3 linked regions of the Homo sapiens genome follow. The protein of the gene in region 3 purifies or fractionates together with the protein of the main gene of each other region. This does not show direct contact. Each region holds a gene or a part of one and is shown on either strand. Other genes may lie near its edges. The genes, in order: DPP3, NIPSNAP2 and OSBPL10.

The links.
Region 1: the proteins of OSBPL10 (region 3) and DPP3 purify together in Homo sapiens (co-immunoprecipitation; one large-scale study listed by IntAct). This does not show direct contact.
Region 2: the proteins of OSBPL10 (region 3) and NIPSNAP2 purify together in Homo sapiens (affinity purification with mass spectrometry; one large-scale study listed by BioGRID and IntAct). This does not show direct contact.

What each region holds. Positions count from the first base shown.
Region 1 is NC_000011.10:66,507,172-66,510,187, reverse strand, and holds the end of DPP3 (dipeptidyl peptidase 3), read right to left. Parts: intron 1,110-3,016; coding exon 937-1,109; 3' UTR 531-936; downstream 1-530. UniProt on the Homo sapiens protein: Cleaves and degrades bioactive peptides, including angiotensin, Leu-enkephalin and Met-enkephalin. Also cleaves Arg-Arg-beta-naphthylamide (in vitro).
Region 2 is NC_000007.14:55,971,002-55,974,655, reverse strand, and holds part of NIPSNAP2 (protein NipSnap homolog 2), read right to left. Parts: intron 1-3,654. UniProt on the Homo sapiens protein: Protein involved in mitophagy by facilitating recruitment of the autophagy machinery required for clearance of damaged mitochondria.
Region 3 is NC_000003.12:31,680,626-31,684,279, forward strand, and holds part of OSBPL10 (oxysterol-binding protein-related protein 10), read right to left. Parts: intron 3,490-3,654; coding exon 3,009-3,489; intron 1-3,008. UniProt on the Homo sapiens protein: Probable lipid transporter involved in lipid countertransport between the endoplasmic reticulum and the plasma membrane.

The sequences.
Region 1 (3,016 bases), on a different chromosome or scaffold from region 3:
TTTTTTTTTTTTTTTTTTTTTTGAGACGTAGTCTCGCTCTGTCGCTTGCGCTGGAGCGCAGTAGCGCGATTTCGGCTCACCGCAACCTCCGCCTCCCGGGTTCCAGGGATTCTCCTGCCTCAGCCTCCCGAGTAGCTGGGATTACAGGCGCATGCCACCATGCCCAGCTACTTTATTTTTTAGTAGAGACGAGGTTTCACCATATTGGCCAAGCCGGTCTCGAACTCCTGACCTCGTGATCCCCTCGCCTCGGCCTCCCAAAGTGCTGGGATTACAGGCATGAGCCACCGTGCCCGGCCCCAGAACATTTAAAAATGCAAGGAATGCCACAAAGGAGAGCTGCAAAAATTGTGCTATGTTCAGCTCTGTGACTGCGTATCCTCATCTAGAGATAATGTCAACATCCTGTTGTGGAAGGGAGGCTAAAAATGGCCCTCCTTGCCCCCTCCCCAGGCCTTGAGCCCATCACTCTGCTGGGAGTAAATGAGAAGACAGGCAAAGGCAAGGAGGAGCCACACACGCCGCAAAGATGGTGGTTGTCTCTAATATTTATTTGTCTGGTTATAAAATTAATATGTGAGGAGCATTGGATTTGGTGAGAACGTTTTGAACCCTAGCTGTCACGTGCCACCTGCGGGATCTAGACCAGTGACTTCTCAGAACTGCCATTTCCTCATCTGGTAGACAGGATGGTAAGCCCTGTCTTGCTCACTCCACGTATGGCAGTGCAGATGAAATGAGATCACAGAGGGGAAGCAATTGGCAGGCTGGAAAGTGCTGACAAATGGAAGGGGTTGTGTCACCACCCTCAGCTGAGGTAGTACCAAGGTCCAAGCTCCTGCCCCTCCCCCTCCCCAGCCCCTAAATACACACACGAATGGAGGGCCACTTGCAGCCTTGGTCTGATGGAATTGGGGGCAAGGCCACACATCTTCCTCAAGCTTGGCCAGATGGGGCCTCACTGGGGCCCTTCCAGAATCGGGCATCGGCTGTGGCCAGCTGTGTGAGGATCTCCTCCAACTCGGGTCCATCCTCTGGGAAACGCTCAGAGAAGGATCGGATGAGGCCAGCAGCTGACGCCTCGTATTCCAGAAGCTGCACGTCTGAGCCTGGGGAGGAGATGGAGAGAAAACAGCAGGGAAAGGTCTGAATAGGGAAACTGAATCATCATAAAAATCTTAATAATCACAATTACAGCAGCAGCTGTTTCTTACTGAGCTCTGCCAAAAAAACCTGTGCTCTACGTTTTAGGTTAATTACTTAATTTACTCTTTACAGTAACCCTGTGAGGAAGGAAATACTACAGGGGGAGTATTAAATGCATTGCTGCTTTCGTTCATTCAGTCAATCAAATAAAGATTTAGGCTGGGCATGGTGGCTCATGCCTGTAATCCTAGCACCTTGGTAGGCTGAGGTGGGAGGATCACCTGAGGTCAGGAGTTTGAGACCAGCTTGGCCAACATGATGAAACACTGTTTATACTAAACATACAAAAAAATTAGCTGGGCGTGGTGGCATGAGCCTGTAGTCCCAGCTACTCGGGAGGCTGAGGCTGGAGAATTGCTTGAACCCGGGTGGCAGAGGTTGCGGTGAGCAGAGATCGTGCCACTGCACTCCAGCCTGGGTGACAGTGAGATTCCACCTCAAAATAAATAAATAAATAAATAAATAATAAAAGACACCAGGTGCCACACTAGGTGAAACAGATACAGTCCTTGGTGTCCTGAAGCTCACAATTCAGCAACGACTTCATCTGTCTACTGTGGGACCTGGGGCAAGTGTTGCAACCTCCCAAGCTTCAGTCTCCTCATCTGTAAAGGAGCTGCAGTGATGACATAGTCACACATCGAGGGGGTGCTCAACAAATGCTAGCCACCATGGCATCATTATCTCCGAACCTGTTTACTGATTTATTAAATGGGCTGTTCTGAGGGTCCCCTGAATACCCCCGGGAAGCACTGCCCTCAAACACACTTCAACTGCTCTACCCTCTCTGTGCACCTTGTCGTGTTCCATGACATCACAAGCTGCACAGCAGCAAAGAGCACAAGCTCTGGAGTTCAAGTTCTGGCTCTGCCACCCAACAGCTTTGTGACCGCAGGCAAATACACAGCCCCTCTGTGCCTCATTTTCCAGATGAAAAATGAGGATAATAACCATTTCTCTCTGGGTTGTTAGGAGTTAAGCCATAGAAAGCTTTTACAGCGACCTGGCTGGGTGTGGTGGCTCACACCTGTAATGCCAGCACTTTGGGAGGCTGAGGCGGGTGGATCACTTGAGGTCAGGAGTTCGAGATTAGCCTGGCCAACATGGTGAAACCCCATCTCTACTAAAAATACAAAATTAGCTGGGCATGGTGGTGGGTGCCTCTAATCCCAGCTTTTTGGGAGGCTGAGGCCGGAGAATCATTTGACTCCGGAGGTGGAGGTTGCAGTGAGCCGAGATCTCACCACTGCCTGCGGGACAGAGTGAGACTCCACCTCAAAAAAAAAAAAAAAAACTTTTTACAGTGCACCACCATCACAACCTTTGAAAATCCAACCTGTTCTTCAGATCTAGTGGGAACCACCCCTTCCTCCCCAGAACGTTCCCGGATACTCTTGAAGATGGATGCGATCTTCCCTCCTCTAAGTGTTCAGAGTTCTGTTTATATGTTTTGGCCACTCATTAACACTTCCCTTGTATGATTATGATGATGATTATTATTATTATTTTTTTTTTTAGATGGAGTCTCGCTCTGTCACCCAGGCTGGAGTGCAGTGACGCAATCTTGGCTCACTGCAAGCTCCGCCTCCCGGGTTCAGGTCATTCTCCTGCCTCAGTCTCCTGAGTAGCTGGGACTACAGGCGCCTGCAACCATGCCTGGCTAATTTTTTGTATTTTTAGTAGAGACGGGGTTTCACCGTGTTAGCCAGGACGGTCTCGATCTCCTGACCTTGTGATCCACCTGCCTCAGCCTCCCAAAGTGCTGGGATTACAGGTGTGAGTCACCGCGCCCGGCCCCCTTGTATGATTA
Region 2 (3,654 bases), on a different chromosome or scaffold from region 3:
AGGATGGTCTCGATCTCCTGACCTCATGATCCGCCTGCCTCGGCCTCCCAAAGTGCTGGGATTACAGGCGTGAGCCACTGCGCCCAGCCTTCTACAATAGTATTTCTAATCTGCTTGGTAGACTTGCTTAAGCACCCAGATACCACCAGGTAAACATTAAGAGGAAAAGAAAGAGCAACTCCAGGTATTAAAAAGGGGGACCAGGAATTTAAACAAGGGACAAGAAAAACTCTCATGAGAGCAAATTCCCCAGTACTTCATGAAATGAACACATGGATTTCATACTACAATAATAGAAATTCCTATTCTTATGCAGCAACGGTATTTTAGAAGTAGGGCTCTAAATTTCACATGATACTGGCAGCCTTTTTCTTTCTTTCTTTCTTTCTTTTTTTTTGCTTAAAAAATCAGTTTGCTGCTTTATTTATTTATTTTTGAGGCAGGGTCTCATTGCACTTGCTGGAGTGCAGTAGTGCAATCTCGGCTCACTGCAACCTCTGCCTCCCAGGTTCCAGCAATTCTCCCACCTCAGCCTCCTGACTATCTGGGACTACAGGTGCATGCCACCACATCCGGCTAATCTTTGTATTTTTAGTAGGGACAGGGTTTCATCATGTTGGCCAGGTTGGTCTCGAATTCCTGGCCTTAAGTGATCCGCCAGCCTCAGCCTCCCAGAGTGCTGAGATTGCAAGGGTGAGCTGCCGCACTCAGCCTAGTTTGCTGCTTTCTTGAACAAACATTACAGAGCAATCTTCTCCCCAATATGATGTTCTTTTAATTTAAAAACCAATTCATAGGATATTGTCTCAAATAGGTAGAAACCAGATATAAAGATTTTTGAATGATGTGAACTTACAAATACAAATATATTGGCCGGGAGTGGTGGCTCACGCTTCTAAATCCCAGCTCTCTGGGAGGCCGAGGCAGGTGGATCACCTGAGGTCAGGAGTTCAAGACCAGCCTGGCCAACATGGTGAAATCTTGTCTCTACTAACACTACAAAAAAAAAAAAAAATAGCTGGGTGTGGTGGCACACGCCTGTGATCCCAGCTACTCAGGAGGCTGAGGTAGGAGAATCGCTTGAACCCAGGAGGTGGAGATTGCAGTGAGCCAAGTCGTGCCACTGCACTCCAGCCTGGGCTACACAGCAAGACTCAATCTCAAAAAAAGTAATAATAATAAAATAAAATAAAATAAATTAAAAATAAAATGTGCTCTATAAATAATTATAAAGAAATATAAAAGCACGTTTTCACATCCTTCAAAGATTAAAAAGAAGCAAACTCACTTTAAACAAGCAAAATAACAATACCAGTAAATGCAATTTTTCTTGAAAGATAAAAACATATAGTATTAAGTGGCATTTGCAGATGTAAGTTGAAGATGCTTCCAATTTGTGTTTACTATATATAAAAATTCCTAAAAATTAAGAAAGCATTAATGGTGGTTTCCCTGAGAAAATGGTTTAAAGGGATAGAGGGGAAAGACACACAGCTTTCTCCATATAATGTCTATATTGTGCTTTTCTCTTCTGTATTTTTTTTTTCTTTGAGACAGGGTCTCACTTTGTCACTCAGGCTGGAGTGCAGTGGCGTGATCTTGGCTCACTGTAGCCTCGACCTCCCGGGTTCAAGCTATCCTCCTGTCTCAACCCCTCCCAAGTAGCTGGGACTACAGGTGCCCAGCACCACATCCAACTAATTTTTGTATTTTTTTGTAGAGACAGGGTTTCACCATGCTGCCCAGGTTGGTCTTGAATTTCTGAGCTCAAGTGACCTGCCTGCCTCAGCTTCCCAAAGTCCTGGGATTATAGGCGTGAACCACCACACCCAGCCATATTCCAATAAAAATGAAAGCACATTTTGTCAATTAGTTTGAAGTGTTTTACGTACACTACATTTAGGGATATCTGTTTAATAATATCATGGGCTGGGCACAGTGGCTCATGCTTGTAATCCCAGCACTTTGGGAGGCCAAGGAGGCGGGTGGATCACCTGAGGTCGGGAAACCAGACTGACCAACATGCAGAAACCCCGTCTCTACTAAAAATATAAAATTAGCCAGGCATGGTGGCGCATGCCTGTAATCCCAGCTACTCAGGAGGCTGAGGCAGGAGAATCGCTTGAACCCGGGAGGTGCAGGGTGTAGTGGGCCGAGATCACGCCACTACACTCCAGCCTGGGCAACAAGAGTGAAACTCTGTCTCAAAAAAAAAAAAAAAGAAAAAGAAAAAAGAAACTTACGCATTACTTTAAGGCAACCATATAAAATTAGTGATACACAAAGTAGAAAGTTTTAAGATTTGTTTATGGGACTATGTAATTTCTGTATGTTCTTTTTTTTTTTTGAGACAGAGTCTTGCTCTGTTGCCCAGGCTGGAGGGCAATAGTGGCACAATCTCAGCTCACTGCAACCTCCGCCTCCTGGGTTCAAGTGATTCTCCTGCCTCAGCCTCCTAAGCAGTTGAGACTAGCGGCACCCACCACCACACCCATCTAATTTTTGTATTTTTAGTAGAGGTGGGTTTTCACCATGTTGGCCAGGCTGGTCTTGAACCCCTGACCTCAGGTGATCCACCTGCCTCGGCCTCCCAAAGTGCTGGAATTATAGGTGTGAGCCACTGTGCCCAGCCAATTTCTGTGTTTATTTTAGATTTTAAGTTCATTAAACAGAAATTGTGTCTACAATTTTTTTTGTTAAATAAATTGTAAAAGCTTAGGAATAACAATTATGAACAATTAAGAAAGGGATATAATAAAAAGTGTCTAAAAATACTGACTAGGGAGTTTCACTTAAAATAAGAAATACTAAAGCAATGACTACTAATAGTTTTATGTATATCCTTCCAGAAATACAGAGGCAAACATATATTATGTATATTTATAGACAGATAATATTTTCACTGATAAAGGATGCCTTTGAAATAAAAATCACCCCAACTGAGCATTTATTTCATATCTCAGAAACACCAAAGTCAGCCTGGGCAGCATAGGAAGACCCTGTCTCTACAAAAAAAAATAAAAAGAGTAGCTGGGCATGGTGGCTCGTGCTTATGGTCCTAGCTACCCAGGAACCTGAGGCAGGAGGATCGCTTGAGCCCACAAGTTCAATGCTGTAGTGAGCTATGATCATGCACTGTACTCCAGCCCGGGCAACAGAGCAAGACCACCTCTAAAACAAACAAACAAATAATAATACCAAAGGGATTCCCCTTTGGGTGGGTACAATGAGGTAAGGGATGTGACAATGCTAGTAATCGAAAAATGCAGAGCAGGGGGTGAGACTAAATCAACACAGCACACACAAAAGAACCTGAGTGGCATTTGCTTGTGAACTTGGGCAGCAATCGTCTTGACAAATGAAAAACAAGCCGGCCAGTACTACCCCCAACCGTCAAACTGAAATCTTTGAGTGTCAGGTGACCAAAGCTGCCTAACATGCCCAACCTATCTAGTCATTCGAGTCGCAGCTATGCCAACGGCTGCCCAAATGATAAGATCTGGCTTGGGCCTGGGTTCTTAACTGACAGTGACAATCGCCAAGATGGTAGGGGGCACTTTCCAGAGGATAAGGAAGGGTGCACTATACAAAACACTAGACTTGAAATCAAGTCAGCATTCTATGCCGGGCTCTATGGATACAAAGATAAACCAG
Region 3 (3,654 bases):
ATAGGGAAGTCCCTCTGGTAAATAGGTAAGGATGGATGGAGATACTCGGGCTGGAGTGGACTTGGAAGAACACCAACCTTGCCACTCACTTCCTGTGCCCCTCTAAGGAGCCTGGGATTCTCTACAGCACAGCTGGAAACCCTGGAGCATATGGTGGACAAATGCCCTTTCAGCTACAAGATTTCATGGTCCAGTCATCACTGGTAACAACTCCTCTTTAAGAAGAGAGACCACTTCAGGCATCCATCTCCCCTTGTCAACAGCAGGAAAAGCCAGACAACCCAGTCATGAATTGGGATTTTTCTAATTGGAAAATAGTTGTAATACTGCACTCTTACAGAAGATAACCTAAGAGGAGGATAATACTCATTATTGATGAGGTTTATCTAAAGATAGATGTATTTTTACATCTTTCCCCCACAGATACAACCCACCTCCATCTGAATTGTGGAAAAGGCCTAAACTGGGTGACCCAAGATCATCCTGGTGACAGGTGTGTCCCTAGCTTCCTACACAAATTAATGAATGTCTCATTGGTGAACTTCTTGATCCTGATTGATCCTTGAGAGGAAGGTGTGACGAGTGCAGCATGAGCTGCTGATTACTAGACCTGCATGCAAGGAAGACCCCAGTGAAGGCCCAACACGAATGCTGAGTACACCTGTGGGCACTCTGGAGTTGCCATCTTACCTATGCAAGAGGGGGAGCAGCGCTTTGGGGTGTAAACCTAACAGAGAAGTGGAACCCAAGAGTGGCTATTTTCCAAAACAGTACCATTGCATGCAAACCCTAAATAAGGAGGAACTGTCCACATTTACAGTCCCTAATTCCTCTCCTTCCTTCTCTCTTGACTTTATTCTAGTCAGATTTTCACTAGTGCTACTCCACTGACAACTGCTGTCAAGGTGACGAATGACCTCCATGATCCAAAATCCATGATCCCTTCTCAGTTCTCATCTTACTGGAGTAACCAGCATCATGTGATGCAGTTGATCACTCTCGCACTTTGAAGCCCTTCTTCACTTGCCTCGCAAGGAGCACCTTCTCCCATTCCATTCAGTCTACTTCTCTGGCCACCCCTCATCAGTCTCCTCGGCTGGCTGTTCATCTTGCAGACCTCTTAATGCTGCTTAATGCTTCAGAAATCAGTGCTCACTCAGCAGTCTCATTAGTCTCAAGGCCTTAAATATTTTATCTCAGCCAGGACCCTCCCTATGAAACTCCAGCTTGCATACACAATTGCCTACTTTAGCACTCCCTTCAATGACTAAACCCTAACAACCGCCCTGAGCTCCCATACTCTTCCTTCAAAGTAGCCCAATACCCAGCCCTCAAGTCTCCCCATCTCAGTTTTAACAGCTAGTCCATCCTTCTAGGTGCTCAGGTCAAAACCTTGGCAACACTTTCTCTCACACTCCACATCCCATCCAGAGGCAGATCCTCTTGGCTCTAACTTTAGAACCTATCCAGATCCTTACTACTCCACTACATTTACTTCCTCCACTATTTTCCACCTGGTCCAAGCCACCATCATCACCTGCTTAGTTATTCTCACAACCTCCTCCCTAGTCTCCTTGTTTCCACCATTACCCCCGCCCAGGGTCTGTTTTCAACAAACGGCTGGAGCAGTCTTGCTGAACTATGAGATTGAGCCTGGTACTCTCCAGCTCAAAAGCACCAGTGGCTTCAGGGCTCCCTCACTGTAAGAGCCAGTGTCCCTAGCAATAGCCCATGAGGTCCTATGTGATCTGGCCACCATCACCTCCCTGACCTCCACCTGCCCCTGTTCACCCTGCTCCAGCCACATGGGCTTCCTGTCTCCATCCCCGTGCCAGGGACATTTTACCTGTAGGCCTCTGCCTCATTCTTTCTGCACACAAACTCTTTCCCAGTGACCTATAAGGCTTGCCTTACCCCTCTTTGCCCGCTTTGGGTCTTTGCTCAAATATCACCTTAGTGAGGCCTTCCCACTGGCCAGCTCATCTGAAAGCTCAACTGCCCTCTCCCTGGTCTTCCCCGGACCCCCACCTGCTTTGTTTCTCTACAACACTTACCATTCTTCAACTTACCACACAATCCATTTTATTTACTTATTTATTTCATTTCCCCGTGAGAAAGAAGGAGAACAGAAGCATCATCAGAACAGATCTTTTTTGGTCTGTTTTGTTTGCTCAAGTAACCACAGCTCCTAAGGCAATGCCAAGCATCTAGTAGGTGCTCAATAAAAATGTGCTAAGTGAATGAAAGGTGCTCTTATCTCATGGGGTTTTGGAAGGGCTTCTAAGGAGCCATGTACTCCCTGAAACTCAAAGACAAATTTGGAGTTAGATTCCTTTTTTCTAGGAAGAGAATCACAGCCTTAGAGCCTTGAAGAGATTTGTGACTCAAAAAAAAGTTGAAGAACCAGTAACACAGATGCTTGAATTTAACAAGGATTATTATAGGTTTCTTCAAACAATGAATAAACTTCATTCACAGCTATTTGCTAAAATAAGAATGTGTGATCCACCAGTGGCGTGATTATACTATGTTCTTGCTTCAGAATTTCCAGCATAGAGTCAAAAGATTTGTTTTGGGAATTTTTACGAGCAGATTTTGAATAGGCAGCATGATTATCCTCATTGTCTGTGAGCCAGAACACCGGTGAGAATGAATAAAAATGTGTTTTCACAGATTTGGAGGCCAACTCTTATATTCATGCAAAGCTGAAAGAAAACAGTACCTGTAAGGTGTGCACGCACGCGCGTGCACAGCATGGGAAGGTCCAGGTGGGAAGGTCCAGGTGGGCGGCTGTCAGGCAGATAGTCCGTTACCTTGGCCCCGCTGGGAAATTACCAGACCTTGTTCCCAAACAACAAAACCTGACCCTTTTACCACCCACACTCTAATTCCAAAACCAGTTAAAAACAACAACAACAAAAAACTCCACACACAAAATTATCAATCATCTACCAGGTATAGAAACGTCACTGTGTAAGAGCCAAACTCCAACATACGACATGGCTTACCTTCCCCTATCATAGAGACCCCCACGGACATGCCCATGAACTTGCTTTTGGTCCATACATGAGTGTTGACGCACAGTCTCTTCTCCTCGCACTCACAGTAGAAGCAGGAGATGGGTGGGTGATGGGACACTTGCTCAGCCACAAACCTTAGTTTGTAGCTTTTGGAAGGGTCATCGGCCATTGGGTGTTCGTGACAGCTGGCAGGAGAGCGGGAAGCAGTCCTCTTAGGCTTGACCCTGTCCTTGGGAACTTCCCAGGAGCAGTGAAATGTCTCGCCTATGATGGGGTTGTAGGGCTTCTTGGCTAAAGCGCCCTTGCGGCCCTCGTGAAAGGCTGTGAGATAATACTCAACGAAGCAAATGACTCTCTCCTCTGGTGTGGCCCCAGCGGTGATGGCCAGCAGTAGGTCTGGGTGCGCCATGAAATCTGCATACATCTCCAGCAAAGATCGCTTCTCCAGGATAAAGGTGGGAAGCACCACCTGCATTTGGAAGGACACAAAGTCAGACAATCCCTGGGATTACACGGAAAAGCTGAAAAGAAAGGTAAAGGCTGCAACCACTGTTAAGCAAATTCATAACATCTCCAGCCAGGGAGCAGTCTGTTTTGACTTGTGCACACATGACAAACCAAGGGAAACAATATC